7 linked regions of the Homo sapiens genome follow. The protein of the gene in region 7 purifies or fractionates together with the protein of the main gene of each other region. This does not show direct contact. Each region holds a gene or a part of one and is shown on either strand. Other genes may lie near its edges. The genes, in order: ALG1, GALNT2, ICMT, CMTM6, HACD2, LETM1 and SLC23A1.

Evidence for each region.
Region 1: the proteins of SLC23A1 (region 7) and ALG1 purify together in Homo sapiens (affinity purification with mass spectrometry; one large-scale study listed by BioGRID and IntAct). This does not show direct contact.
Region 2: the proteins of SLC23A1 (region 7) and GALNT2 purify together in Homo sapiens (affinity purification with mass spectrometry; one large-scale study listed by BioGRID and IntAct). This does not show direct contact.
Region 3: the proteins of SLC23A1 (region 7) and ICMT purify together in Homo sapiens (affinity purification with mass spectrometry; one large-scale study listed by BioGRID and IntAct). This does not show direct contact.
Region 4: the proteins of SLC23A1 (region 7) and CMTM6 purify together in Homo sapiens (affinity purification with mass spectrometry; one large-scale study listed by BioGRID and IntAct). This does not show direct contact.
Region 5: the proteins of SLC23A1 (region 7) and HACD2 purify together in Homo sapiens (affinity purification with mass spectrometry; one large-scale study listed by BioGRID and IntAct). This does not show direct contact.
Region 6: the proteins of SLC23A1 (region 7) and LETM1 purify together in Homo sapiens (affinity purification with mass spectrometry; one large-scale study listed by BioGRID and IntAct). This does not show direct contact.

The regions. Positions count from the first base shown.
Region 1 is NC_000016.10:5,070,431-5,075,014, reverse strand, and holds the start of ALG1 (chitobiosyldiphosphodolichol beta-mannosyltransferase), read right to left. Parts: upstream 3,173-4,584; 5' UTR 3,166-3,172; coding exon 2,958-3,165; intron 2,768-2,957; exon of another isoform or gene 2,712-2,767; intron 2,065-2,711; coding exon 1,987-2,064; intron 1,863-1,986; coding exon 1,759-1,862; intron 1-1,758. UniProt on the Homo sapiens protein: Mannosyltransferase that operates in the biosynthetic pathway of dolichol-linked oligosaccharides, the glycan precursors employed in protein asparagine (N)-glycosylation.
Region 2 is NC_000001.11:230,248,488-230,252,516, forward strand, and holds part of GALNT2 (polypeptide N-acetylgalactosaminyltransferase 2 precursor), read left to right. Parts: intron 1-696; coding exon 697-784; intron 785-1,969; coding exon 1,970-2,073; intron 2,074-4,029. UniProt on the Homo sapiens protein: Catalyzes the initial reaction in O-linked oligosaccharide biosynthesis, the transfer of an N-acetyl-D-galactosamine residue to a serine or threonine residue on the protein receptor.
Region 3 is NC_000001.11:6,225,862-6,229,890, reverse strand, and holds part of ICMT (protein-S-isoprenylcysteine O-methyltransferase), read left to right. Parts: intron 1-4,029. UniProt on the Homo sapiens protein: Catalyzes the post-translational methylation of isoprenylated C-terminal cysteine residues.
Region 4 is NC_000003.12:32,485,413-32,489,441, forward strand, and holds part of CMTM6 (CKLF-like MARVEL transmembrane domain-containing protein 6), read right to left. Parts: intron 2,625-4,029; coding exon 2,526-2,624; intron 1-2,525. UniProt on the Homo sapiens protein: Master regulator of recycling and plasma membrane expression of PD-L1/CD274, an immune inhibitory ligand critical for immune tolerance to self and antitumor immunity.
Region 5 is NC_000003.12:123,574,639-123,578,667, forward strand, and holds part of HACD2 (very-long-chain (3R)-3-hydroxyacyl-CoA dehydratase 2), read right to left. Parts: intron 1-4,029. UniProt on the Homo sapiens protein: Catalyzes the third of the very long-chain fatty acids (VLCFA) elongation four-step cycle (condensation, reduction, dehydration, and reduction).
Region 6 is NC_000004.12:1,832,016-1,836,044, forward strand, and holds part of LETM1 (mitochondrial proton/calcium exchanger protein precursor), read right to left. Parts: intron 2,968-4,029; coding exon 2,830-2,967; intron 933-2,829; coding exon 729-932; intron 1-728. UniProt on the Homo sapiens protein: Plays an important role in maintenance of mitochondrial morphology and in mediating either calcium or potassium/proton antiport. Mediates proton-dependent calcium efflux from mitochondrion.
Region 7 is NC_000005.10:139,376,563-139,380,591, forward strand, and holds part of SLC23A1 (solute carrier family 23 member 1), read right to left. Parts: coding exon 4,003-4,029; coding exon of another isoform or gene 3,991-4,002; intron 3,828-3,990; coding exon 3,646-3,827; intron 3,515-3,645; coding exon 3,394-3,514; intron 3,273-3,393; coding exon 3,116-3,272; intron 2,793-3,115; coding exon 2,645-2,792; intron 2,123-2,644; coding exon 2,017-2,122; intron 1,790-2,016; coding exon 1,660-1,789; intron 1,557-1,659; coding exon 1,413-1,556; intron 936-1,412; coding exon 840-935; intron 1-839.

The sequences.
Region 1 (4,584 bases), on a different chromosome or scaffold from region 7:
GTAGGATCACTTGAGCCCAGGAGGATGAGGCTGCAGTTAAGCTATGATTGTGCCACTGCACTCCAGCCTGGGCGACAGAGCTAGACTCTGCCTCTAAAACAAACAAACAAAAACCAAACAAACAAACAGAACCAACCTGAAAAGTCCAAGATCATCAATAATCAAGGAGGCAAAAAACAGAACAAAGAGATGGCATTTTTCACCTGTTGGAATGCAAATTCTAAAAAGGTCTAACAACAGCTGGTGATGGTAAGCATGGGGGAGAAGAGGTACCCCCACTCAGCGGGGGCCAAACTGACCCAACCTTACTCTAAAGCTATCCAGTAACATACACATTTTTAAAATGCATCAACTTTGACTACACAATTCCACTGCTGGGAAGTTACCCTAAGAAAGAAACTGGACTTATACAAAAGGCATATGCTCGCTGTGCTTGGAGCCACACTATTTGTAAAAGTAAAAACAAAATCAGGAAGAATCTGAGTATCCATTAACATGAGACTAAATACATGCAGTATAGTACATCACATATTGGAATTCAAGGCTGCCTATTAAAAGAGGAAGGTGTGGGTCACGATGGTTCATGCCTGTAATCCCAGCAATCTGGGAGGCCGAGGCAGGTGGATCACCTGAGGTCAGGAGTTCAAGACCATCCTGGCCAGCATAGCGAAACCCCATCTCTACTAAAAAAAATTACAAAAATTAGCCAGGCATGGTGGCACATGCCTGTAATCCCAGCTACTCAGGAGGCTGAGGCAGGAAAATCACTTGAACACGGGAGGTAGAAGGTGCAGTGAGCCAAGATCGCACCACTGCACTCCAGCCTGAGCAACAGAGACTCCATCTCAGGAAAAATAAAAATAAATAAATAAAAGAGGAAGGTGCTTCTATATATTAAAAATTGATTTAAAAAAAAAAGTATTCTTCCTTCAGCTAGAAAAGAAAGAAAAATTTTTTAAAGAAAAAGTGATCAAGGGAAGGGATTAAAAGTATAACGATAGGCCAGGCGCGGTGGCGCACGCCTGTAATCCCAGCACTTTGGGACGCCGAGGGGGGCGGATTACCTGAGGTCAGGAGTTCGAGAACAGCCTGGCCAACATGGCGTAACCCCATTTCTACTAAAAATACAAAAATTAGCTGGGCGTGGTGGCGGGCACCTGTAATCCCAGCTACTCAGGAGGCTGAGGCAGGAGAATCACTTGAACCCGGCAGGCAGAGGTTGCAGTGAGCCGAGATCACGCCACTGCACTCCAGCCTGGGCGGCAAGAGCGAAACTCTGTCTCAAAAAAATATATGTGTGTTTGTGTGTGCGCGCGTATGCGTGCGTGTGTATACTATAGAACCACACTGACGACCTACGTTCAAATCCTGATTCCACCACTTCCTAGCTGTATGGCGATGGGCTACTTACAGAGCCTTTCTCAGTCTAGGTTTTCTCATCTAAATGAGAACAACCTTAAGAAACAGGTTCTTGTATTACCTACATGCAATATTTCTTAGGGTAACTGTGAGGACTAAATGAGTTAATACATGGAAAACACTTGATACACAGTCAGTACAATGTAAGACTATCTGTAATGACACAGAGAGCATGGATAGGTGCCATAAATAGACACATACCATAGGCTCCTACTCATGTCTTTAAACGCCCATACACACAACACACACACATATGAATATGCAATATAGTACCAATTTGTGCTGGAAAGTAAACTGCTAACATGGCTCTCACAGAGGGAGGCAGAGGCTGATACACACCTGGAGAAAGATATAGGCACCTGGCTCCCTCCACATCAACTTCCACAGCAAGTACATAGCCTGAAGTACAACTTTGACTCCGTACTGGAAAACTCGGGGCCCAACTGCAAGTCAGAAAACACCTGTGACTACCAAAGGAGCGTCTGGCAATCTGCACGGCTTTTCAAACGAACACCCCCTGCCCCCAGCCCATGGATTCAGAGGATTCTGGAGTTGACGGCATCCTACCTGCAAGACTCTGAAGTTCTGTCAACCCCACAATCTGAATTCTGTTGTTCTGCAAGAGCTCATCATGGGGTTTGGAGTCTGAAAAATGAGAATGATCCCTTTAATGTACCAGAAGCAGCAATCTAAAGTCAGATAATCTCCCAACTCAGGCTGAATCACGGACAGTGTTTTGGAAAGTAAGATATTTCAAAACCTCTCTCTGCTCCTCACTAGCCAGAACAGAGAATGCGGCCAATTCTTGTTCAGATTGCTCTAGGAGGCACACAGAGATAGGGCCTGAATCTTACCTACCTTCACTTAACATGATGCCTGGCAAACAGTAGGTGCTCAATTAAACTAATCTAGATTGTCTGGATAGTGGAATTTTCCCACCACAGAGCCATCCCTAGGAAGTCCCACTCTACCCCATCACCCTAGGATAGCAGATTCTAAACAGGGATTAAAGGCAACTAGTGCTGTTCCCACTTCTTCCTGAGATGGGGTTGAGCTACCCTCTCAAGATACCAACGTGGAGAATAATGAGGGAGCAGACACCGCTGCCCTGCACACTGTGGGGAAAAGCTGGACATGAAGAACAAATGAAAACATCTGTCTGCAGAGCTCTGCGTTGAGGGATGAGGAATGAAATATCCTGTCAGCTCAGACATAGCCTGACAAGGGTAGCTGCACAGGGACGTAGCTACCAGCACTAGCCCTGGAGTTCCACGCACCTGGGTTCCACTTACTAGGAGAATTACGTGAGACCACGCAATGGATTCACTTAACACACTTCTGACACGTGGCAAGATTAACGCCGGCTATACCTAGAGACCCACCCAGGAAAGGCTGGGGCAGAACCGCTCGTCTAATCTCGGAGAGCTGCCCAAAGGCGGCGACTAAAGGAGCACTTCCGCCTCGACTCCCCGGGGCGGTTAGAACCGAGGATCAACGGCTGAGAGAGCATCGTCCCTCCCAGACCCTTGGCCACTCACTGCAGAACCCCAGGAGGGTCACCGAGAAGCCGTGCATGGCCAACGACAGCGCGTGGTACTGCATACGGGGGCTGCGGCCCACGTCGCCCAGCACCACCGCTACTACATGCCGGGCCGCCCGCCCCCGGCGCCAGCGCTTCCATCCTCCCAGCAGCAGCAGCGGCAGCAGCAGACACAGCGCCAGCAGGACCAAGCATGAGGCCGCCATCTTGGCTGGCCCGCAGCAGTCACGTGACCGCGCTTCCTCGCGCTGTGCGCAGCCGCAGACCGAGCCTCCGAAGTGGGCCGAGAGGGCGAGAAGTGGACGCGGTTCCCTAACAGGGGCCCGGGGAACCCCCAGGAGCCCCTCGGGGCCAAGAATTAGTAGTAGTAGGACACACGCACATACACCAGATTCCCTACACACCAGTGTATTTCCCCGACTAAAGTAAAGCTGTTACTGTATTGGGATCTAAGAACTCTCTTCAGGATTCAAAGATAATTTCAAAATATAGTGACACAAGAATTTGGATAAATTTCATCCTAACATTGATAAAGGAGCCAGATGCTGACGAGTACGAATTGTAGAGTTCCGTCTATGTAAATAAAAACCAGTCCTCGCTGTTAGAAGTTAGGGGCTGGTGGGTTCTGCTTCTGGATCTGGTGCTGGTAATGTGGGTGTGCTGCATTTGGGGCGGTACCTCAAGCAGCAGATTACCTGCCCATTTTCCAGGGTGTACATCACACTTAATAAAACATTTAAAAGGTAGAGAGGGGGAAGGACAAACAAGGAAGTAAACACCATCATGATTTTGCTTAAGTATCAATGGCTAGAAAGGAAATTTCCACAGTGACCCTCCAATTTCACCTCCCAAAGTAGCCATAGTGAGAGTTTAATGTGTGTCTCTGCGATGGCCTGTATTAGTCCGTTTTCATGCTGCTGATAAAGACATACCCGAGACTGAGCACTTTACATAAGAAAGAGGTTTCATGGACTTACAGGTCCACATGGCTGGGAAGGCCTCACCATCATGGCAGAAGGCAAGGAGGAGCAAGTCACCTCTTACATAGATGGCAGCAGGCAAAAAGAGAGCTTCTGCAGGAAAACTCCTTTTTATAAAACAATCAGGTCTCGTGAGGCTTATTCACTATCACGAGAACGGCACGGGAAACACCTGACCCCATGATTCAGTTACCTCCCACTGGGTCCCTTCCACACAACACATGGGAATTCAAGATGAGATTTGGGTGGGGACACAGCCAAACCGTATCATGACCTTTTTTCTTTGAAAGCGGTCCCTTGCAGAGAAACACCAAGAGCTCACTGGTGATGCTACCCCATTGCCTCCACTTGGGAGCTGCCGCAGAACCTGGAGAGCCACCACCCAGACCGTATTCAACAAACAAACAAGACTCCTCCCCTGATGAGGACCACAGGCAGCACCCACGGGACAGGGTAGCCCACATGGATGTGGCTCCCCAGTGTCCCTGGGCTCAGCTCAGGGCTTGGCACACTTTGCATCTGCTTTTCACAATTGCCCCATCACTCCCTTTCTATGGATTCAGAAGGGACAGCTCACGCCTTAAGCCAGACCTTGAAACCCGAGCTTTCAGAAGGAAAGGAAGGACGAGTAAGTATCTGCAGACA
Region 2 (4,029 bases), on a different chromosome or scaffold from region 7:
CGAGACCTGAGGCCCTGCAGATGCCCACAACCAAGTCCGGGTACAGGGTCTAGGCTCTTCTATCCTCAGGGGTCTGTGGATTCCAAAAATGAAATGCAACAGGTGCCAAATATATCTGAAATTGAAGCTTATTTGCCCAGCTTGGCAACTTCCGCTGGCTCATTTTCCCTTAAAGTTTTCATATTCCCAGCATGTTCCCACTCCATTCTTGCTGCAAATACAGTCTGAAGTTTGCTGGCCCAGGGAACTGACAAAGCCTCGTTCCCTCCCCAGCATTGCCTTCCCCTGGGGCAGTGTTGGAGGTACCACGGCTTGATTTTCATGTTGGATGCTCTTTTTCCTCACATCCTTACAGCCCTTGGACATGCCCTGGTTATCACCACACAGACCCCAGTTCTCTCCCCATATTTCATTTTTTCCTATGCATTTCAATATTAGAAAAGCCTGACTCACATTTTCTTTAGGGAGGGGCAGGGAGAAGATTTCAACATTCACCCTCACTGCCGGTCTCTCTCTTCAGCTACACCCACGCCCCCAGTCCCCTTCTCTCTCCTCCACACCTTCTTTTTTGGCTTTGTTTTGGTTTTCATTGAGTTCTGTCCAAACATCGAATATTTTTAAGCTGTGAGGAATGGGGGTGTCGGGAGGAAGTGGCCAGTCTCTTGTCAACACCCTGTTTCTTTTCCTGGCTGGCAGGTTTTGATTGGAACTTGGTATTCAAGTGGGATTACATGACGCCTGAGCAGAGAAGGTCCCGGCAGGGGAACCCAGTCGCCCCTATAAAGTAAGTGCCAGCATCCTTCAGGGTGCCCCTCCCAGATGAGACCCCAGGTTCCAGCTTCTTTGCTGGGCCCGCACCGCCTGGAGACCCAGTGGGGGCTGTTCACCTTCTGCCCTCCGGTTTCCCCTCGTCTCAGCTCAAAGATGAGCACCTTCCACCAGGTCATAGAATAAAATCCTTGGAGATTTCTTTTCCACAGTTGAAGTCTCACATAGGTTTATAAGGCCTATCTGCTAGGTCTGTGCATTCCTGTATGTTGATAATGTAGAGCGTTTCTGTAGCAGAGCAGGATCTCCGAGCTGACCCCAGGCCCAGGAAAAGGGGCTTGGTGGGCAGCAGGAGGCTTACTGCTGCTACTGCCCAGCAGGCCTTTGCTCTCCTGCAGAGGAAGGAGCCCATGCTCATGAAGCCCATGCTTTTAAGATTCCCAGGCCGGGCGGTGGGCTTTCTGGTTGAGAGTCAGGATGCCTTCTCTAGCTGGGGAGAGAAGGGGGCCACCTCTTCCAAGTTGGCACACGGTTAAGTGAGATAGCATTCACAGAGTACTTAGCGCTGAAATATATTTGCTGACATTTAGCCAACATCTGCAGTGTGCCATAGACCTTCCCAGCACTTTACACTGAATTCGCACAGCATCGCTTCTGGGAACAAAGTAGGGAGCTCAGTGTACATCTGTTGTCAACCCCTTCCTGGGATGATGAAGTGAGGAGCATGGTGGGTTCCCTTGTAGGAGGTGGAGTCTCATCTATGATAGTGATAATGAGAGCTGGTGCTGTGGAGCATTTCCTAAGCGTGCTCAGGGCTTTATGCCCATGATTTTTTGCAATCCTCGTAGCTACCCTATAAGGAAACTGACACACAGAAAGGCCGAGTTCTTTGCCTATGGCAGCATGTCAGTGAGTAGTGATCCAGCCCCAGCAGTCGCTCCCACATAGGGGAGGCTCAGTCCAGCCCCTGGCACTGTGGGAACATCCAGGCAGGGACAGTGGGGGAGGCATTTGAAGGCAGCAGTGGTGAAGCAGAGAGAGTGGCATGCTGGGCACTGAGCAGAAAACAGTGGCAGTGTGGCTGTTCTGAAGATCAGCTTATTGTTAGGGAATCAAGGCTTGGCCTTGGCGCAAGGGTGCTGGCAATCTAACCTTGACTTTGCCCTCTCCTCCCTCCCCCCTCTTCTTTCTGCCTCTTTAGAACCCCCATGATTGCTGGTGGGCTGTTTGTGATGGATAAGTTCTATTTTGAAGAACTGGGGAAGTACGACATGATGATGGATGTGTGGGGAGGAGAGAACCTAGGTATGTACAAGCCTCAAATCTCAGGACAGAGAAGTGCCTCAGCTCTGCAAAAGGCAGGGTGCCAATTGGAAAAAAAATTTAAAAGGCTTCAGAGTGACCATTCACTGGGCTTAATCGATCCTTGCAAACACATATGTAACACCCCTTTTGCTCTTGAAAGTCTCATGAGTTGGGCATTAAAATGTGCCTCCCTAGGTTAGAGTGGAGGATGCCAGAATACGGATAAAGTCTTTGAAGGGAAATGCAAACTCTTTCAAGGCGTCTGAACCCAAGTGTTTGGAATGTTGCAGGCTTGCAAAAACAGAGGGAAACAGTCCAGGAGCTCAGATTCATGCTGAGTGGTGGAGAGTGGAAAATGAACCCCGGCGAGGCTGGTGGGATTGATTGAATTGAAATCATGAAAATCCGATGGGGCAGGGAGGCCTTGGCACTTAATCCCTTCTCGACTACCTTTGCGAATGGTTCTCATTTGTTTTTCTGTTTGTTTGTTTTTTTGTTTTTAAATACCCCATGCAAATTATTTTTACCCAGGTTTAGGCACAGCAAAATTTTGCACATTGTGGTCTATATTGGTAGCCTTATATTTACTGCATAAAAGATGAAAAGATGTGTTTTGTTTGTTTAGGGTTTGGAGTGGGGGAGATCTTTTTTGCTTGTTTCAATTAAAGCCTTTTGTTTCAAATGCTTGACATTCTGAGCGAATTCTCCTGGGCTGCTGAGTGTTGTTAACTTACATTCGTCCTTGGGTGAGTGTACCCTGGAGGACAGGGGAGAAGGAAAGGGGAAAATGAGGCCACTCATTTTTAATAGTTTTGAGACTTTGAAAGTTTTTGTTACTTTAAAAGAAAAGACTAGCCTAGCCTATTATTTTTCCATTGTTTTATGATGTTGAAGTCAGTGATACCATCTCATCTTTGAGGATTTCTCTGCCTTGGTTTGATGTTGAAAGCTTCTTTAGGCTCGATTACTATACTGCACGGGTGGAGAGACCGTGAGTCAAACTCCTTTTGGGTTGTTTTAAAAAAATGATACATTAACCTCTAGGGAAAGCTTGGATTGAAGTCACTTGAGTACAAAAGGCTTCAGAATTGTTAACCCTCTAAAGAGAGTTCTGTCACCCTGTTCCATGGGTATCCCCTAATGGTTTAGTGGAAATCCAGCAGGCCAGGGTCGCCCAGTAGGGCAGCGTATCGTGTAGGTGGCCATTTCTCAAAAACAGTGTGGTTTTCAGAAGTTTGCATACTATTAGCTGAAATGAGACATCAGCCAGCATTTTGTGTCATCGTGTAGGAAGAGTGTTGATTTACATATCTAAGGAGGCATTCACCCAGAGACTGGGGGGTAGATTTGTTGTAAGGAGCTGCTTTATTGTGGTTTGGTGTTTGTATTTATTATGTAGCTGTGCTAGAAGGTTCTAGGGTCTGAGCGGTTCAGGTTGGGGTGAAGATGAACCCTGCAAGCAGGAGCACATCTCTGCCCAGGAAGGCTGGGGCATCTGTCCCTCCGTGAGGGGCTCTCCTGGGTTATGCCAAGGACTTGGACTCCCAGTGAGGTTTGGAGGGCTCAAGAGCTTCACGTGAGAAGGCCATGCCGTGAGCCTTTCTCCTTAGCACTGCTCTAGCTTCTGCTTCTGGGGGCCGTGCACACTACTAGCCATTGCCAACCTGAGGGGCCTCTGTGGGTGTGCATTGGGAGAGGTGTATGGTGCAGAGAGGCCCGAGTAAGATCCAAAACCACCTCCTCAACGTGTGCCCCGCTGGAATGACCAGAGCTTCCCATTTTCCTAATCATGTAAGTCCTTATGTCATTTAAGCAATTAAAATGGAGGACCAAGAACCTAACCCTTAACTCTAACAATGGGGGTAAGGCTCCTTGGGGGCATCATCTGTGTTTCTCTACATCCCTGTCATGCAAGGATGATGCTAAGTACTTCCAGGGAATCATCTGTTTGTGCTT
Region 3 (4,029 bases), on a different chromosome or scaffold from region 7:
GTCTCAAAAAGAAAAAAAGAAAAAGAAGTGTAAGGATTATAGGTGTGAGCCACTGCACCTGCTCTATGTGTGTGTGTGTGTGTGTGTGTGTGTGTGTGTGTGTGTGTATTTTTTTTATTTATGTATGGTTTTTTGTTTTGTTTTGAGGCAGGGTCTCTCACCCAGGCTATAGTGCATTGGCATGATCATGGTTTACTGCAGCCTCTACCTCTTGGGCTCAAGTGATCCTCCCACCTTAGTCTCCTAAGTATCTGCCCAGGCTGGAGTGCGGTGTCACAATCTCGGCTCATTGCAACCTCCGCCTCCCGGGTTTGAGTGATTCTCCTGCCTCAGCCTTCTAAGTAGCTGAAACTACAGATGTGTGTCATCACACCTGGCTAATTTTTGTATTTTTTAATTAATTTATTTTTTTGAGATGGAGTTTCACTCTTGTTGCCCAGGCTGGAGTGCAATCATGTGATCTCAGCTCACTGCAACCTCTGCCTCCCGGGTTCAAGCGATTCTCCTGCCTCAGCCTCCTGAGTAGCTGGGATTACAGGCATGCGCCACCATACCCGGCTAATTTTGTATTTTTAGTAGAGACGGGGTTTCTCCATGTTGGTCAGGCTGTTCTCGAACTCCCAACCTCAGGTGATCTGCCTGCCTTGGCCTCCCAAAGCGTTGGGATTACAGACATGAGCCACCATGCCCAGCCCCTGGCTAATTTTTGTATTTTTGTAGAGACGGGGTTTTTCCATGTTGCCTAGGCTGGCCTCGAACTCCTGCGGTTGAGTGATCTACCCGCCTCGGCCTCTCAAAGTGCTGGGATTACAGGCGTGAGCCACCACATGTATTTCTTTTTCTTTCTTTTTTTTTTTTGAGACAGAGTCTCACTTTGTCGCCCAGGCTGGAGTGCAGTGGTGCGATCTTGGCTCACTGCAACCTCCACCTCCCGGGTTCAAGTGAGTCTCCTGCCTCAGCCCCCGCGAGTAGCTGGGATTACAGTTGTGCACTACCTCGCCCAGCTAATTTTTTGTATTTTTAGTAGGTTTAGTAGGGGTTTCACTGTGTTGGCCAGGCGGTTCTCAAACTCCTGACCTCAGATGATCCACCCGCTTCAGCCTCCCAAAGTGCTGGGATTACAGGCGTGAGCCACTGCATCCAACCCGCATATTTCTTTTTTAAAATTACTATTTGGCTAGGCACAGTGGCTTTGGGAGACCAGAGCAGGAGGATTGCTTGAGGCCAGGAATTAGAAACCAGCTTGGCTGGCCGGGCATGGTGGCTCATGCCTGTAATCCCAGCACTTTGGGAGGCTGAGGCAGGCAGATCATGAGGTCAGGAGATCAAGACCATCCTGGCTAACACAGTGAAGCCTCATCTCTACTAAAAATACAAACAATTAGCCTGGTGTGGTGGCACGCATCTGTAGTCCCAGCTACTTGGGAGGCTGAGGCAGGAGAATGGCGTGAACCCGGGAGGCGGAGCTTGCAGTGAGCCGAGATCGCGCCACCGTACTCCAGCCTGGGCGACAGAGCGAGACTCCATCTCAAAAAAAAAAAAGAAAAAGAAACCAGCTTGGCCAACATAGTGAGAACCCTTCTCTCCAGAGGAAAAAACTAAAAATATATCTGGAAGTTGTAGTGTGCACCTGTAGTCCCAGCTACTCAGGAGGCTGAGGCAGGAGGATCGCTTTGATTGCTGCTGTACTCCAGTCTGGGCAACAGAGTGAGACCCTGTCTTAAAAACAGAAAACAAAATTATTTATTTGTGTATTAAAGATGAGATCTCGCTGTGTTGCCCAAGCTAGTCTCAAACTCCTGGGTTCCAGCAGACCTTCTGCTTTTGTCTCCTGAGTAGCTGGGACTATAAGTGTGCACCACCATGCCCAGCTAACTTTTTGTTTTTTGTAGAGATGGGGTCTTAGTGTTGCCCAGGCAGATTTTGAACTCCTGGGCTCAAGCAGTCCTCTCACTGCAGCCTCTCAAAATGCTGGGATTACAGGCATGATCCACCATGCCCAACCCAAAGCCTTATTTCTTTTTTTTTTCTTTTTGAGACAGAGTCTCGCTCTGTCGCCCAGGCTGGAGTGCAGTGGCGCAATCTCGGCTCACTGCAAGCTCCGCCTCCTGGGTTCACGCCATTCTCCTGCCTCAGCCTCCTGAGTAGCTGGGACTACAGGCGCCCGCCACCATGCCTGGCTAAATTTTTTGTATTTTTAGTAGAGACGGGGTTTCACTGTGTTAGCCAGGATGATCTCAATCTCCTGACCTCATGATCCACTTGCCTCAGTCTCCCAAAGTGCTGGGATTACAGGCGTGAGCCATCGCGCCTGGCCGCCTTATTTCTTGAAACTGTTTCTTGATTCTTTACTCTTGGTCCTAGAAAAACTTGGCCAAAGAATGTGAATAGATCTTGGAAAATTCACGAAGTGTTTGGGAAAAGTCTCCAAGTCTTTGGGCAAATCCAGAGATCTCTCAGGCATCCCATCAGCAATGCATGGTCCTTGGTGACTCTGGTGACCCCTAACGGTATAGGTGGGGCAAATGATCACATAGCATTTACAATTTTTGTTTCTGAAACATGTAAAACCGCCACATTAACAATCACCTTCCCTGGGAACAAATTAGTTATGACTGAATAATGTAATTTGCCATAAATGCTTGCTTCCTGTATATGTGTGTGCACTAGAACCAAAGGGTTTTCCATACCTTTTTGCCCATAGATTTTTTTTACATTGTGCTCCAGCACTTGTGTGTGTATGAAAGGAACATGTCTTTCCTGATATAATACTTACACTTACTGTTTACAAAATCCTGTTTTCTATCTTATTATTTCAATACTGTTCATAATGTACTAAATGATTTCATGGCTTAGTAACAGGCTGCAGCCTGCTATAGAGAACTCCCACTGTAGGGTATCCCCAGCAAGCTATGCCAGATGTGAGGGTACAGGCCCCGGAGTCACTGACTGGGCCAGTCCTGATTCTGACATTCACTGCTTGGCCTCCTTCTCCTCTCATGTTAAAGTGGGGGCAGCTAGACATAGTGGCACATGCCTGTAGTTCCCCCTACTCTGGAAGCTGAGGCAGGAGGATGGCTTGAGGCCAAGAGTTCAAGTCCAGCCTGGGCAATATAGTGAGACCCTGTCTTTAAAAAATAATAAAATTTTAAAAAAAACAAAGTGGGGATAGTAGCGTGCCCTCAAAGGTTTGCCATGAGAGTTGAACAGGGTAATGATTGTAAAGGGCTTAGCATGGCGCTGGGAACATAGTAAGTGCTCAATAAGAGAAGGTGTGAGAGGTCAGGACATGAGCCTGGCTCTCCGGGTGGCTGTATTGGAGCCTAAAATATATATTCAGAAAACATACAGAAAATGTATGTTGGGGAAGATGCACATCCACAGGGGACCAGTGGGCAGGTGTAGGTGAGTGGTTCCCTGAGGAGCTGGGGAATGCTTTTGGCCTTGAAGGACTGTTTGGCTGGAGATCAGTGGGAAGGATGTTCTTTGTTTTTTTTGAGAGGGAGTTTCGCTCTGTCGCCCAGGCTGGTATGCAGTGGCGATCTCAGCTCACTGCAACCTCTGCCTCCTGGGTTCAAGCAATTCTCCTGCCTCAGCCTCCCAAGTAGCTGGGATTACAGGCTCCCACCACTACGCCCAGCTAATTTTTCTATTTTTGGTAGAGACGGGGATTCGCCATGTTGGCCAAGCTTGTCTCAAGCTCCTGACCTCAGGTGATCTGCCCTCCTTGGCCTCCCAAAGTACTGCAATTAACAGACATGAGCCACCGTACCTGGCCAGGATGTTCTTAAAGGTGGAAGAAAGGGCCAGGAGTTCGAGACCAGCTTGGGCAACATTGTGAAACCCCATCTCTACAAAAAATACAAAAATTAGCTGGGTGTGGTGGCATGTGCCCTTAGTCCCAGCTACTTGGGAGGCTGAGGTGGGAGAATCACTTGAGCCCAAGCAGTTAAGGCTGCAGTGAGCCATGATCACGCCACTGCACTCCACGTGACAGAGTGACAATCTGTCTCGGGGGAAAAAAAAGAG
Region 4 (4,029 bases), on a different chromosome or scaffold from region 7:
ATAGCTGTAAATTTTTTCCCTGGAACTCAATTTTTCCTCAACTTCATTTCACTTTCCCCACAGAATTTTATAGTAATGTATTTTTATACAAATAAGTAGCCAGAGCTTTTTAAAATTAAAAATGAGTTAAAAAACTCATTATTTTATTGATCACCATCTCATACTCCTCTGCAACAAAAATGTTTCTAAACTGAAATTAACCATAAAGCCCTATTAAAACTTTGATTTTTCTCTTCTATTGGTTCATGTACCCATGAATAAATATTGCTTATTGCTAGAATGAATCAAGATTCAGTGTTAATTTTATTTCTATGTTTTGTTTTTACACATGTAAGTGCTAAGAAACTGTTGTCATATGAATAGATAAATATAGCCATGCAATTCTCTGAACTCCTTTTGAGTTTTCTATCATAAAATGCAGTTTTAATGATGTATTAGCTGACAACTCTATTAATTACAACTTCAATTTTGTTTTTGGTTTTTGAGATGGAGTCTCACTCTGTCACTTACACTGGAGTGCAGTGGCACAATCTTGGCTCACTGCAACCTCCGCCTCCTCGGTTCAAGCGATTTTCCTGCCTCAGCCTCTCGAGTAGCTGGGACTACAGGCGCCTGCCACCATGCCCGGCTAAGTTTTGTATTTTTAGTAGAGACAAGCTTTCACTATATTGGCCAAGCTGGTCTCAAACTTCTGACCTCCTGATCCGCCCGCCTTGGCCTCCCAAAGTGCTGGGATTACAGGCGTTGACCCACCACCCACCACGCCCGGCCTAACTTCAATTTTGTTAAAAACAAAGTATTAATTGGAAACCAGCTGACTTGCAAGATGATTTGTTGTCCAGTTGCTAGTCATTCAAGTTCACAGCACTGCTACCAGTCCAAGGCCATGATCCTTAATTTACAATTCCGAAACCCAAAGAACTACATTAACTCAAGGTTTTCATGATTCACTTGGCTCAAAATTGACACAAAGTAAGCCTATTTACATGGAGTAAGACTACTTAGTCTTTTCTTATCCCTTTTACTATAAATATTCATATGTTTTACTTCAGATATACCAATGTTAGATTACAGGGTACTGTCGCAGGCCCTCAAGTGGTGTTGTGTAATATAGCATATGTACAGCACTACCTTTCTAAAATCCAGAATATTCTGAATCCAAAAGAAAAAAATTCTGGCCCCAAGAATTTCAGAGAAAAATTGGATCTTTATTTTCAACTGTCTCTTTGTTGTACTCAAGGGTTTTTTTGTTTTACAATTCAGGGTAATCCACCATAATAAGTGATATGGCTTGGGTTTGTGTCCCCACCCAATTCTCATGTCAAATTATAATCCCCAATGTTGGGGGTGGAGCCTAGCTGGAAGTGACAGGATCATGGGGCAGACTCCCCCTCTGGCGCTGTTCTTGTAATAGTGAGTTACTGCAAGATCTGCTTGTTTAAAAGTGTGTAGCACCTCCCCACTCTCTCTATTCCTCCTGCTCTGGCCATGTAAGATGTGCCTGCTTCCGCCTCGCCTTCTGCCATGACTGTAAATTTCCTGAGGCCTCCCTTGCTATGCTTCCTATAGAGCTGTCAGAACCATGAGGCAATTAAACCTCTTTTCTTTATAAGTTACCCAGTGTCAGGTATTTCTATATAGCAGGGCAAGAAGGAACTAATCCAGCAAGATTCAGGACAAGCAAGTTTTTTTTCTTTTTGAGGGGCAAGGTAGGTGGCGACTGTGAATGGGAAGGTGGAAAAGTGCCGGTGAGACTCCTTCACCAGAGATAAATTCTCAGACATACAAGTTTTAAAAAAGATTACATATGGAGGTTTAAAAGCTGGAAATTAATTTCCTCAACACTATCTCTGCCTCATACTCCTTGAAAAGTCTGATGAAACTTTAAGGATATGTATAACCCACTGAAAACTGCTGTCTAGACCAACTTTTTTTTCTATTATTTTTTTTTTTCTTCTTATAGAGATGAGGTCTCACTATGTTGCTTGCCCAGGCTGGTCTTGAACTCCTGGCTTCAAGTGATTCTCTCACCTTGGCCTCCCAAAGTGCTGGGATTACAAGCCTGAGCCACGGCACCCAGTCTCAGAACAACTGCTATTGGTTCATTTAACAAACTCCATTACAATTTTACTTTTCCGTCTCCTTTTCTAGACTGAGTCTCTGAATCATTTCTCCCATATATTCTCCATACCTAGAAAACACCTGGCATGTAGGTGTGCATTTATTGAACTGAAAGTGGAGAAATATAAAATAATAAAGTCAATTTTACCACTTCCATTAGCAATAACACACGGTATGTGGAGTAAGTGGATTTTTTTTAAACAAAATTCAGTCAAATTCTATAGGCTCTAGGTTTTAAAGGCTATCATATTGATTTGCTTGTAGGTCTTCTATTCAAAATTACACTAAAAAGTAAGTTATAAGAAAAACAACTCTAACATGCTGTATAACTTGTCAAGTACTCTCCAAATTCCATATTTCTAAGGAAACAAAAATAAGCAATGTTAAAAATACAAGGTACTTACAATTGCAGCAATCTCAGCTGAAGTCCTGTCATGTGTGGAAACAAAAATGATGGATGCCAACAAAAACACACATCCTGTTCCCAAAGTAATATAAAAATCCTATGCATACATACAAAACACAAAAGGAATACAATACAGTTAGATTCATGGAAATGAACTTTTTCATTTTTAACTTTAAAAAGCTCTGGCTACTTACTTGTTTTTCTTGATACAACCCAAACTTACATACCCAAACTTCTAACTTTTCAATAAGCCTGGCATTCAATAAATACCCTGTAAAAAAACAGTATCCACACTGGGCTGGGATTATTGAGAGAACACATTACAAGATAAACTTTTAATAACAACAATCCCCTATGCCAGGAGAGGTGGCATGAGCCTGTAGTCCCAGCTAACTGGGACATTTTTTATTATCCAGTCCAAAAAAAGAAAAAAAAAAAAAAACAGTCCCGGAAAAGATCTCGTGTGTATCTCGTGCAAGTGTTTGTGTGTGTCCTCTTTTTCTCTGGGACATATTAAAATTATCTAAGCCAAAGCATTTATTACAATTCCATCTTACTTCCAGCAAAAAAGCATTTTTCTTTCCTTTCAAAGTATTTTATGGTAGGATGACATCTCTGAGAGCACTCCAATGCTTTGAAAGCACTTTCTAAAAGAAAGAATTTTAAAAACCACCCGTTATTAAATAGAAGTATGCCAATAGTGTGTTTTTTAGACACTGAAGCTTTCTGGAATAACACATTGCCTTCAACTGTTCCAAGTGGGTAATCTACAGTGAGCTTATATGATGAGTTTATCTACTACATAAAAGCTTCCATATCTTATCATAATGCAGCTTACAATCATGAGATGTTTCATGGGTTTCCAAGTGCTCTCTCAGGCATTACCTCACAAGGCTCTCATATGCCAACTGAAAACAGTAATGACATATATACTTGATTCAGAAAGGGAAACTTGGTAAAATGATAGCCACTCCAAAGGGTTTTAAGTCTGATACTTTTTGAGTTTTCTGAACTGCAAACTCCACTAAACCTAATATCAATAAAACTGGCCAGGCACGGTGGCTCACGCCTGTAATCTCAGCACTTTGGGAGGCCGAGACGGGCAGATCACGAGGTCAGGAGTTCGAGACCAGCCTGACCAACATGGTGAAACCCTGTCTCTACTAAAAATACAAAAAAAATTAGCTGGGCGTGGTGGTGGGTGCCTGTAGTCCCAGCTATTCTGGAGGCTGAGGCAAGAGAATCACTTGAACCCAGGAGGCAGAGGTTGCAGTGAGCCAAGGTCACACCACTGCATTCCAGCCTGGGCGACAGAGCGAGACTCCATCTCAAAAAAAAAAAAAAAAAAAATCAATAAAACTATTTAACACAGAATTCCTAAATTGTCAATCATTCACTTAACATTTATATAAAATGTAAGAGGTTTTCTTGCCGGGCACGGTGGTTCACACCTGTAATCCCAGCACTTTGGGAGGCCAAGACAGGTGGATCACCTGAGGTCA
Region 5 (4,029 bases), on a different chromosome or scaffold from region 7:
TTTCAATTACATATAATATAGAATTTTATTTTAAAAAATTACATGTTTCATGTGATATATAAATATATACTAAAGTATATTAAAAGTGGTAATCTTTTACTCCCCCCTTGCCCCAAAATACCACGCCCCTCCAGAGGTAAGCTCTAATTAACAGTTTGATATATACTCTTCCATACCTTTTTCAGTATCTGCAATTGTGCTTTTATTCCCTATTGATTTTCCTAATCTGAAAACATCAGCATATAACTATTCTATTATCAATTTAAAAATTTATGAACTCTGGAGTGATACAAAATTTACATCGTTATGTTTATCCTCCTTCCCACTTCATTCTATCCTGGTAAAATCTGAAATATCTTATGGGATTCCACATGATCACACTGCATTCTGTACCGTGGTCTAAAGGCTTATACTGTGCAGCCACTAGCCATATGTGCCTATTTAAACTTAAATAAAGAGTAAAGAATTTTCATTTTTTTTTTTTTTGGAAAACAGGGTCTTGCTCTGTCTCCTAGACTTGGAGTGCAGTGGAGTGACCATAACTTACTTCAGCCTGAAACTCCTGGGCTCAAGCGATTCTCCTGCCTTAGCCTCCCGAGTAGCTAGGACTAATATGCGCCACTGTATCCGGCTAATTTTTTAAATTTTTAAAATTTTTTGCAGAGGCGAGGTCTTGCTATATTGCCCAAGCTGGTCTTGAACTCCTGGCCTGAAGCGATCCTCCCACCTTGGCCTTCCAAAGTGCTGGGATTACAGGTGTCAGCCACCACTCCTGACCAAAAGTAAATAAAATTAAAAACTCAGTTTCTCAGACCCACTAGCCACATTTTAAGTGACTAGTGGCTACTGTTTTGGACAGCGTTCCAACGTTATCACTGCAGAAAGTCCTATTGGACAGTGCTAGTCTGAAAACTTGGTTAATTTTATTTATTTATATAACAGTTACTCTTTGATAACAGCTAACTACTCTGATTAAAGTTAAATAATCTTTGGTAAGGTGCTTTCAAAGTTCCATTAGCTTTTCTAAGTGTTTTCAAAATGTTTCCAGCTTTAGGAAACTGCATGGTCTGTTATCCAGGAACCTAATATTTCCTACTACACGGGGATTTTTTCTTCTTTCAAGTTTAAGGTCCCAAGTTGTTTTTAACTATTACATTTTAAAATCTGCTCTTTTATGCTGGAAATTGTTTAAGTACTCAGGAAGGGAAGAAATTTTTTTGTTGTGGAACACCATAAACTCTCACTAACCATAGTGAGGTGGCCTTTCAGTTCAGCAAAGTTTTCTATAACTTTTCTCCCTGATTATTTATAAGCTGTATATTCCAACCTTTTCTACTTCCTCTGGTAGTCTTACTTTTTGAAAGCTTATACAACCTCATCAGGTTTTCTAGATACATTGGTTCTATATATATTGTTTTTCTGTTATAATGTTTTGTAATGTTTCTTTTACATGGTGAACTTTGAAAATTTCCCTATGACTTCTGTTCTGCAATTCATTTTATATGAGAACGTGAGTGGAAACTCCCGCCTTTTTTGAATCTTCAGTATCACCTATTTCTTGCACTGTGGCTCCTTCGTGCCCTATATTGCCACCATTGATATTTTTAGTTCTTTTTTTTTTTTAATTTCAGTACATTCCCTTCTACAGATGTTAGCTATTGTACCTCTTTGAATACCACATCAATTTGCTTCTATTTGCTTGAGTCACCAAGCAGTGAGGCCTGTGTGGGTGGGTTCCTGTTTCCTTCCAGCTCTCTCTTCCCTTCTAATGTTGTGACACTTATTAATTTTAATCAAGTTAGAGTTTTCCTCTGGTTTTCACACTGTTTGAGAAGCTGGTTTTTCTGGGATTTGTTGTCATTCCTATTTGTGTTAGATATCTACACTATAACTTGCTCTTGCTAGCTTTTCAAAAGCCTCTTTTAGAGATGTGTTTCCTCAAAATGGGTCCAGAATAAAAGGAGCCTAACACATGCATGTAGCTTGCATTTCAGAAGTTCCTTTTTGAGACTATTACTGGGAAATCAGAATGTTTCCACAAGAAGGAAAAATATAACAGACAACGGTTATGTCCTCAAACCAGTTCACAAAAGCAGTCTGAAGCACAATACCTCCATGGCAAAAATCAGTTAGTGTTTGAGCCATAAAGAAAGAAAAACTGGCAGGGAGATAAGAAGGGATCTTTCTTCTTAAGGACACTGCAAGTTTCTAAGACTTTGCTGTATTTTATAGAAATACCCAAAATCAATTTCCTATTCATTAAAGGATCTGAAGAGCATTGTGAAGTGAGGTCTGCAGAGTGAGACAGGAACACACAGATGAGGCTGAGAAAGTGCTGGGGTTAGAAGACTAACAAAAGCTGTCTGCTGTCTCCCACCACTTCTCCAGACCTTGCCCTAGATCAATTCCAGGACACGATCAGAAATGAGATTGGGTTGTTTATTCATTTTTGTAGATAAGGGGTTTCAAGTAGAAGAAAGATCTGGAAGAGAATGGGAAGAAAAGGGAATTCCTGTGGTCCATCAGGAAGTCCCAGATGCACAATGGTAGGTAAATGTCATATACAGCAATGTACATATGTTGAAGATAGCCTGTATCAATCTCAACAGTTAACCTCTTTGCAGAGCAATCTTTAACCCATTTGAAATCTCACTGTCAATCACAGAGGCATATCCAATCATGAGTATTTGAAAGTGTCTTTGGCCGGGCGCAGTGGCTCACACTTGTAATCCCAGCAATTTGGGAGGCCGAGGCTGGCGGATCATGAGGTCAGGAGATCGAGACCATCCTGGCTAACATGGTGAAACCCCGTCTCTACTAAAAATACAAAAAATTAGCCGGGTGTGGTGGCGGGCGCCTGTAGTCCCAGCTACTCGGGAAGCTGAGGCAGGAGAATGGCGTGAACCCGGGAGGCGGAGCTTGCAGTGAGCCGAGATCGCGCCACTGCACTCCAGCCTGGGCGATGGAGTGAGACTCTGTCTCAAAAAAAAAAAAAAAAAAGAAAGTGTCTTTGCTATAATTACAGTCTTATGTTAACCAAAGATATTTAGAAACCCAAATTCTCTCAAACATAATTTTAAACTGCCATAACTGCATTAGTCCACTAATTTTTAATCTAACTATACTTGACAAATATGCAAAGATAACATCTGCCTCATCAATGAATATCATGGACTCCAAAAATGAATAAAGTAGAAAACACCCACAACTCATTACAGAGGAACTCGTTTTTTAAAAACTGACATATAATTCACATGCCACAAAATTCACAATTTTAAACTGTACAATCTAGTGGTTTTTAATATGTTCACAGAGTTGTGCACCCACCACCACTATTTCAAGAACAATATCATCACCTTAAAAGGAAATCCTGTACCATTAGCAGTCACACCCCACTCTCTCTCCCCACAGCCCCTAACAATTCCTCTACTTTCTGTCACTATGGATTTGCCTATTCTGGATATTTCTTATAAATGAAATCATACTATTTGTGACTTTTTGTATCTGCCTCCTTTCACATGCATTTTTTCAAGATTTATCCAGGCATATATCAGTAATTCATTTGCCTTTATTAATTTTATGAATGTTTATATCCATAGACCACATTTTATCCATGAGTAGCATTTTATTTATAGATACTTTTTTTTTTGGAAATGGGGTCTTGCTCTGTCACCCAGGCTGGAGTGCAGTGGCACGATCATGGCTCACTGTAGCCTTGAACTCCTGGGCACAAGTGATCCTCCCACCTCAGTCTCCTGATTAGCTGGGACTACAGGCATGTGCTACCATGCCTGGCCAATTTTTTAATTTTTTGTAGAGATGGGGTCTCGCTATGTTTCCCAGGATGGTCTTGAATTTCTGGCCTCAAGCAATCCCCCCATGTCAGCCTCCTAAAGTGCTGGGATTACAGGTGTGAGCCATGGTACTCAGCCAGGCTTCCTTTTGTACCTTGCTACTACATGCTCCTTTGTACTTGCTTGGTAAATGTTTTTATGTCTTTTAAAAAGCAAAGTGTTATTATTTTCTTAA
Region 6 (4,029 bases), on a different chromosome or scaffold from region 7:
ACCAGCCGGACACAGTGGCTCATGCCTGTAATCCCAGCACTTTGGGAGGCCGATGTGGGCAGATCGCTTGAGGTCCAGAGTTTGAGGCCAGCCTGGCCAATGTGATGAAGCCCTGTCTCTACTAAAAAATACAAAAAATAGCCGGGTATGGTGGCGGGCGCCTGTAATCCCAGCTACTCTGGAGGCTGAGGCAGGAGAATCGCTTGAACCCAGGAGGCAGAGGTTGCAGTGAGTCGAGATCTCGCCACTGCACTCCAACCTGGGCAACAAGATCGAAACACCGTCTCAAAAAAAAAAAGGAGTAATCAGACCTAGAAGGAGGGCAGCGCCCTGAAAGCACAAAAGGGCGTGAAGCACAGAGGCAAGCACGTGCGATGGACAGGACAGGGCAAAGGGGCAAATGGACCCTCGATGAAGACCCTGATGTGAGGAGAGAGGCACAGAGGCACTGTCATCAATAAGCAGGATGAACACAAAGACAGACACAACTAAGCAAGTTATTATAAATCTGACGAAATCCAAACAGAGAGATCATCCGAGAAGGTGCCAGAGAAAAGACATCCATCTTCAAAGGATCTGCAATCTGCAAGTGGCAAGACTCCTAGTGAGCTTATTTTCGATCGTTCAGCATCTTCCAGAGTTTCTACAATGAGGACATGCTGCTTTTATCATCAGGAAACGAAAAGGTAAAACACCAGAGCTGTGGCGCGGAGTATGGCCAGGCTCACCTTGTCGTCTGCCTTTATGGAGCGCAGCCGCATGGTAAGCTGGAAGCGCAGGAAGTTGTTGGTGCCGATGGACTGTAGCTCCAGCAGCTTGCACAGGGCCACCAGCTGCGGCCGTGTCAGGTTGTCCAGGGTCAGCTCATCCTCAAATAATTTGGAAAAACGCATGATTTCCTCATTGCTGGGCCTCTCCCCTGTTTCCCGGATCTGCGGAAGTGGTCACAAGGGTCATCCCCGGGACACGCGCCCACCCGGCTCCCTCCCACGACCAACCACATTCCCAAAGGGTGCTGCCTCTCATCCTCAGGGACTCAAACCACTGACTACTTCTTCTTTTTTTTTTTTGTTTGAGACAGGGTCTCGCTCTGTTACCCAGGCTGGAATGCAGTGGTGTAATCTCGGTTCACTGCAACCTCCACCTCCTGGGTTCAAGGGATTCTCCTGCCTTAGCCTCCCGAGTAGCTGGGATTACAGGCTGCGCCACCACACCCAGCTAATTTTTGTATTTTAGTAGAGATGGGATTTCACTATGTTGGCCAGGCTGGTCTCAAATACCCGACCTCAAGTCACCTGCCCAGCTTGGCCTCAAACCACTGACTTCTGACTCCGGTGCTGGGCTAGCCTGGGGAAAGGTGGCGTCTGGCCTGTGGACCTCTCCTGCCTGAACCAGCAAAGCTGAGGCTGCTGTCTGCTGGGGGAGACGCCCGGGCCCACAGGCTGCTGCATGCAGGTCCTGTGATCCTCTCTCTGCCACAGAAGTGGCCGGGACCCTGCTGCTCTGGGGCAGGAAGAGGTGCACCTGTGTGCACCTACATCTCCCACGGATGACTGCCTGAGCCTTGGGGGAGGGGTGGCCATCTAGCTCTTTAGGGAGAGCTAGAGTCCCTTAGCGTGGATCACTCAGGGCCCTTTGGGTGATCCTCTGCAGTTCCTACCACCTGAGGGACAAGCCACCAGCTCAGTCTCTGCCAAGAGCTGGGCTAGGAGGGTACCTAGCAGAGGTGACAGATGAGGGAGGACGAGGCTGACTTGGTGCCCAACTCAAATCGTAACATGCAGGATGCCAGCTCTGAGACACAATTTCAGGTGTGCTCCTGGGGGCGGCCCTATGCAGCACACCCCCGTGCAGGTGACTGCAAGCACATCCTTCTTGGCAGCTGGGCGGCCCAGGAAAGGTTGGGACGGGCCCCTCCTGCTCTGCAAGGCACGATGTCCTGGGTGAGGCTCCCAAAGCATGGCTCCCCCTAAAACATCTTGCTGGAACCACCACCCACTCCCTGGGGGGCTCAGCAGCCCCATGGCTGTGTCGCCTCCTCCCGAGAGGCTTCTCCGTGGTTAGGCCTCAGCCTGGCAGTCTTTTCTGTCAAGGGCCAGACAGCAAGTATTTCTGGCTTTGCAGCCATGGAAACCACTCGCCTCTGTGCTGCAGCGGGAAAACCCCACAGACAACGCACACGCATGGCTGGAGTTTCTAGGCCCTGGTTTAAGCTCTTCCTGCACTTCAGACACATCCTTCTCACTCCAAAGTGGCACAAGTCCCTCAAGCCAACAACACCGGCCTCGTGAACCCCATCTAGTCCTCAGGGATCTCGGTCCGTGGCAGCTGCCGTCTCCCCATCCTCACCTCACTCACCACATGACCGCAGGAAACCTCAAGGGCCGCTCCTCCTCTCCAGCCCCCACTGCTCCCACAGTCCAGGCCTCTGACCAGCCCCTGGGACCTGGGATCTTCTTGACTGACTCCAGCCAGAGGGCAATGCCCAGCAGAGGAGCCCGGCCAAGCCACCCACACCTCACACCATCAGGGTCTCAGGCTCCTCATGGGTCAGATTCTACTGCTCCTGGACAGCTGCAGGGTGATGAGACACAGACGCCCATAATTCTGAAGGCTGACGAGGCGCAGCCACCACAGCTTAACTCACTGGGAGCTCGTGGGGGCAGACTCCTGACACTCCACTGGCCCCCGACTGAGCCTCCTGGGTAAACTTTCAAGCGCCAGCCAGCACCTGGGGGAGCTCCACTCTGCTGAGCACAGCGAAAGGGAAACAGAAAATCAGGGAAGGCTCCCTGGTGAGGTCACAGGGACTCAGACGTATCACAGCACCTTCTGGAAAAACACAGAGAAGTCTTTGGTGGCGCTGCCCTTGGCTGCCTTGTTCTTCAAGGCCATCTCCTCGATGGTGTCCTGGAGGAACTTGGCCAGCTCCAGCTTGACCCGAAGCTCCTTCTTCAGCCTCTCCTCCTGCAAGGGCAGAGAGGGCACTGCATTCCAACTGCTCAGACTGTGGTTCGGGCAAGGAAAACATCTCACGCCTGTGCCCGACCCCCACTCCCAGAAACATTTCACAACACACTGACTCTCATCTAAGTGCAATACATTCTCAAACTCTTTTATTTCATGGTTTTAAAAAGTACCCGTGTGGGCCGGGCACAGTGGCTCATGCCTGTAATCCCAGCACTTTGGGAGGCCAAGGTGGGTGGATCACCTGAGGTCAGGAGTTTGAGACCAGCCTGGCCAACACGGTGAAACCCCGTCTCTACTAAAAACACAAAAATTAGCCAGGCATGCACACCTGTAATCCCAGCTACTTGGGAGGCTGAGGCACAAGAATCGCTTGAACCCAGGAGGTGGAGGCTACAGTGAGCTGAGATTGCACCACTGCACTCTCCAGCCTGGGTGACAGAGCGAAACTCCGTCTCAAAAAAAAAACAAAAACAAAACAAAAACAAACAAACAAACAAACAAAAACAAACAAACTCGTGTGATTCCCTAAAGCAAGGATCGGCACACTTTCCGTAATGGGCTAGACAGGAAGGCGTCTGGCCTTCATGGCTGTGTGGTCTAAAACAAATGCTTAACTCTGCTGGTGCCTCACAGACAAGACACATGACTGGGCATCGCAGGTCCCCACAGGGCTCTGCTGAGAACAGGCAGGGTCCTGATCTGGCCTGTGGGCTGCAGCTGGCTGACCCTGCCCTAGAAGGACCTCATGACTCCCCTATAGCACCGGTAGGGGAGTGTTCCTGGTCTAGAAAACCTGTATTTTAAAATACATTGAGCTGGAAGCAGTGGCTCACACCCATAATAACACTTTGGGAGGTCATGGCAAGAGGATTACTTGTGCCCAGGAGTTTGAGACCAGCCTGGGCAACATAGCAGATCTTGTCTATAAAAAACAAAAAAAAATTAGTCAGATGTGGTGGCTTAGCCTGTAGTCCCAGCTATTCGGGAGCTAAGACAAGAGGATCACTTAAGTCCAGGAACTTGAGGCTGCAGTGAGCCGTGATCGCACCACTGCACTCC
Region 7 (4,029 bases):
TGTTAACTGTTTGTTATCAGAGCACCTGGTGACATTTATTTTATATATTTACTGGCATCTTTATGCGGGCCCCACAAAGTATCCTCCACGATCTTTGCAAAAAGCTCTGGTACCAAAGGGAAATGTTAGTGGCTCTTCTAGTCGCCATTGTGGCAGGCTGCTGACATATTTGGAGTGGATGGATTTTGCCAACAAACTGATGCTGCATTTATCTCTGTCCTACTCTGAAGAAAGCAAAGACATCCCTCAGCCCAGTGGCTATTAAGAAATGGAGAGGAGGCCAGGTGCAGTGGCTCATGCCTGTAATCCAGCACTTTGGGAGGTTGAGGCGAGCGTATCACTTGAGGTCAGGAGTTCAAGACCAGCCTGCCCAATATGGTGAAACCCCATCTCTACCAAAAATATGAAAATTAGCTGGGCGTGGTGGCAGCCACCTGTAGTCCCAGCTACTCAGGAGACAGGAGAATCACTTGAACCCTCCGGGAAGTGGAGGTTGCAGTGAGCTGAGATCGCACCACTGCACTCCAGCCTGGGTGACAGGGCGAGACTCCATCTCGGAAAAAAAAAAAGGAAAGAAATGGAAAAAGTGGAGAGGAAAGGATTCACAGGACCCAGCAGTGACTCTTCCGGCCCCATCCTCTTCAAGACCTCTGAGGCATGTCTGTGCCTCATTCTCTCCCTCCAGCCAGTGAGCACTCCACCAGCCCATCTATTCCTGATGCTCCCTGCAGGGCCTGCATTGCATGGGACCTAACCACACAGCTCCAGCTCAGAGGCCATCTGTTGGAGTGCATGAGTCCAGCCTAGTTCTTCATTCCCCTCCCAGGACCGAACCATACCTGGCACTGTGTTGTCAAGTATGAAAGCAAGGCACCCGCCCACAAACATCTCCGTGGTCAGCAGCACAATCAGAATCTGATCCACTTCAAGAATGCCTGTGGAATAGGCCAAGGGCCAATGGGTGTCATGGCCCAATCTGGAGAGCAGAGTTGAGGGACTTCCTCTTGTGCAGCTATGGCAAAGGAACAGTACAAAGCCCTGTCTCAAACCTATCTCTGTCTTTCCTATCTCTGGGTTCAAGTCCCAATTCTGCCAGTTGCTAGTTGTTCACCTGGGACAAATCACTGAGCCTCATCTTCCTCATCTGTAAAGTTGAAATGATAATGGAGAAATGATAAATGTAGATAAATGGAGCTGTTTTGAAAATTAAATAAGCACATGTAAAGGTCAATATCTGTCCACAGGAAGTGTCTTAGTAAAGGACAGCTGTGACCCAAGCTCTCAGCTGCTGGTTGACACCCAGAGTTGGGTACGATTTGTGGCTGTAGCTGTGTGGAGCCTTTGAGGGAGGGGGCTGTGCTCAAAATTTTGGGCCCACCCCGCCTTTGGAGACAGTAAACAGCTGGAGGCACCTGTATTGATGGCGCCAGGGTTGGACTCCAGGTAATTGGGCAGCGTGAGCCCGAAGAACATGGAAAATCCCAGCACGAAGAGGTTGCGAGAGGAGTTCATGTCCACAAATTGCAGGTTGGACAGCCCCACAGCTGTAATCATGCCTAAGGGCGCAAGAGAACGGCTGGAGGCGCCGCACACGCGTAATCCAGGTGAGTCCCACTCGGCGACCCGCACCGCGACCCGTGGCCCGCGCCAGACACTCACCAAAGAGAGTGCAGAACATGCCCCCCAGGATGGGGTCAGGGAGCGAGGCGAAGAGGGCCGTGAACTTGCCGATGGTGCCCAGGACCAGCATGATAGCCGCACCATACTGCACCACGCGCCGGCTGCCCACCTGCCGGGGAGCCAGCGGGGAAGCTAGACCTGGGGACGAGGCTGGGGCGGGGTTAGTTCCAGGGGCGGGGCCTGTTATAAGAGCGAGGCATAAACCGGCTGGGGCTTGATGCGGGGGCGAGGCCTCTCAAAGACAGGGTGGGGCTAAACCAAAGTGGGGACCGAGTTGGGGCGGGGCCTGCGGCCCACGGAATTAGGGCAGGATTTGGCTCTGGCTCGTCGCGACACCTTGGTAATTCCCAGGACGCCAATGTTGGGACTGGACGAGGTGGACCCGTTGCCCGTGCCCAATAGCCCCGCGATGATGCAGCAAATGCCTTCGGTGAAGATGCCCCTGTAAGGAAAGGGAGAGTCGGGGCTTGGTCCAGCCTCTGCACCAGTCTGTGTTCCCCCATCATCTTAGCAAGCTGCCGTCCTCTGGGGCTGTGGGGGCTGCAGCTATCAGCTGTAGCACTCCCTACTACAGGCCAGAATGCTCAGGCTCCAGAGCTAGTCCTAGTGCCCTGGCACTTACTCCTGTGGGTAATTCTGGCCTTCAATTTCCTCCTGGGATAAATACCGGTGCCCGTCTCACAAAATGCTTCAAAGATTGCATAAGAATGCACAGTCAGAGCCGGGCACATGGAGGGCTGTCAATGACGGTGGTTCCCTTTGGACTCCACCATCTTCTCAGCTACTCCCAGCAAAGACAGAGGGGTGATGAGAGGGCACCCCCATCGCACAAACAAGGAGAATGAGGTCTGGAGCGTGTTCCCGACTTGCCTAAGCCTACCCCCTGGGCCTCCACCCCGTTCCTGTGTGTGCTTCCTGGGTGGCGCCTGAGGAGATCAGATACTGAGGAGGGCAGGTAGGCTACCTGTTGATAGCATGTACTGGAGGGGGTGGTGCACCAGCCAGGCGGGCACAGGCGTAGTAATCTCCGATGGACTCAATGATGCCTGCCAGAGTGGCGCTGAACATTCCCAGGACAGCAGCCGCAGTCACCGTGGGCAGGCCCCACTGACCTGTGCTCGGAGGGAGACAGGATGGTGGCTACAGTGAGGAGACTGTGATGGTTAGGAATAGACAGGGCAGTGCTGGAAGGAGCAAGAGCAGATCAGGAGACCTCAGGCTGGGATGGGAGCTATACAGTTGTGGGAGCTTATTTGAGTCACTCAGAGCCAGGAAGTGGGACTGAAGCTTTGTCTAAGTAAAACACCACTCTGCTGGGCGCACTATAAATGTGCGGCTAATGCTAGGTGTGTCACCTGCTGGATTGGGGTCACCAGGAGTCTGTCTCATAGGTGGTCTCAGTTGGGGGCAGAGGGGCCCAAGGGGTGTTGCTCACAGGGGTAGGGGATGCGGATCCAGGGTGCAATAGCCATGATGTCACCACGGGCATCGGTTCGTGCCTGGAAGCCATAGGCTTTTGGGTCTGTGGGCAGCACGTCTGTCAAGGTCAGGACATAGCAGAGCAGCCACACGGTCATGATGGCCAGCATGATCTGAAGGAGGGGGGTGAGGGGGCACTGAAGGCACTGGAGGTCTCTGTCCAGGCTAACCTGCTCCCACCTCAGCCCAAGCCCTGGCCATAGTCCCAGCCCCAGCCGCCTGCCAGGTCCTCACAGGAAACATTTTGAAGATCTGGATGCGGAGGAGAGTGAGGCCCTTGCCCCAGCGGTAGACAGGCAGCAGGAAGGTGAGGTTGCGCAGGTACTGGGAGAAGAGGATGATCAGGAGAATGGAGCTGGGGGCAGAGGCACAATCAGGAAGTGGATGGGAGGCCAGGCTGGGGCCAGGAGCCGGGAAGAAGGACCAAGGACATGAAGAGGGTAGGGTGCTGGGGCTGGGCAGGGATCAGGCCTGGTGCCTGCTCACCAAGCTGAGATGCCCCAGTGGGAGCCAGCTCGGTCGCCAGCAGCTTGGAAGACAGAAAGGCCAATGAGGGAGACAGTGGGGGTGACTGTGAGAGGCCCAATGTAGTTGAGCAGGGCCCCAGGCAGCCCCAGCAGGCCAATCACCACCTCCACCACGCTGGACACCATGATTGCACCCTGGACCTGGAAGGGCAAACATCAGCCGTAAGTCACCATGTAAAGGTCATGACCTGGCTGCTGCTAGCAGGAACAAAGCTCCTGGACCACCTCCTCAAATCCCCAAACTCAGCGGCCACCCTCACTCCCATATAGCCCCTCCTCAGGACCCGGCCTCTTCTATGCTTACATGCAAACCCACCTCCCGTATCCGTGGGTGCCAAATATG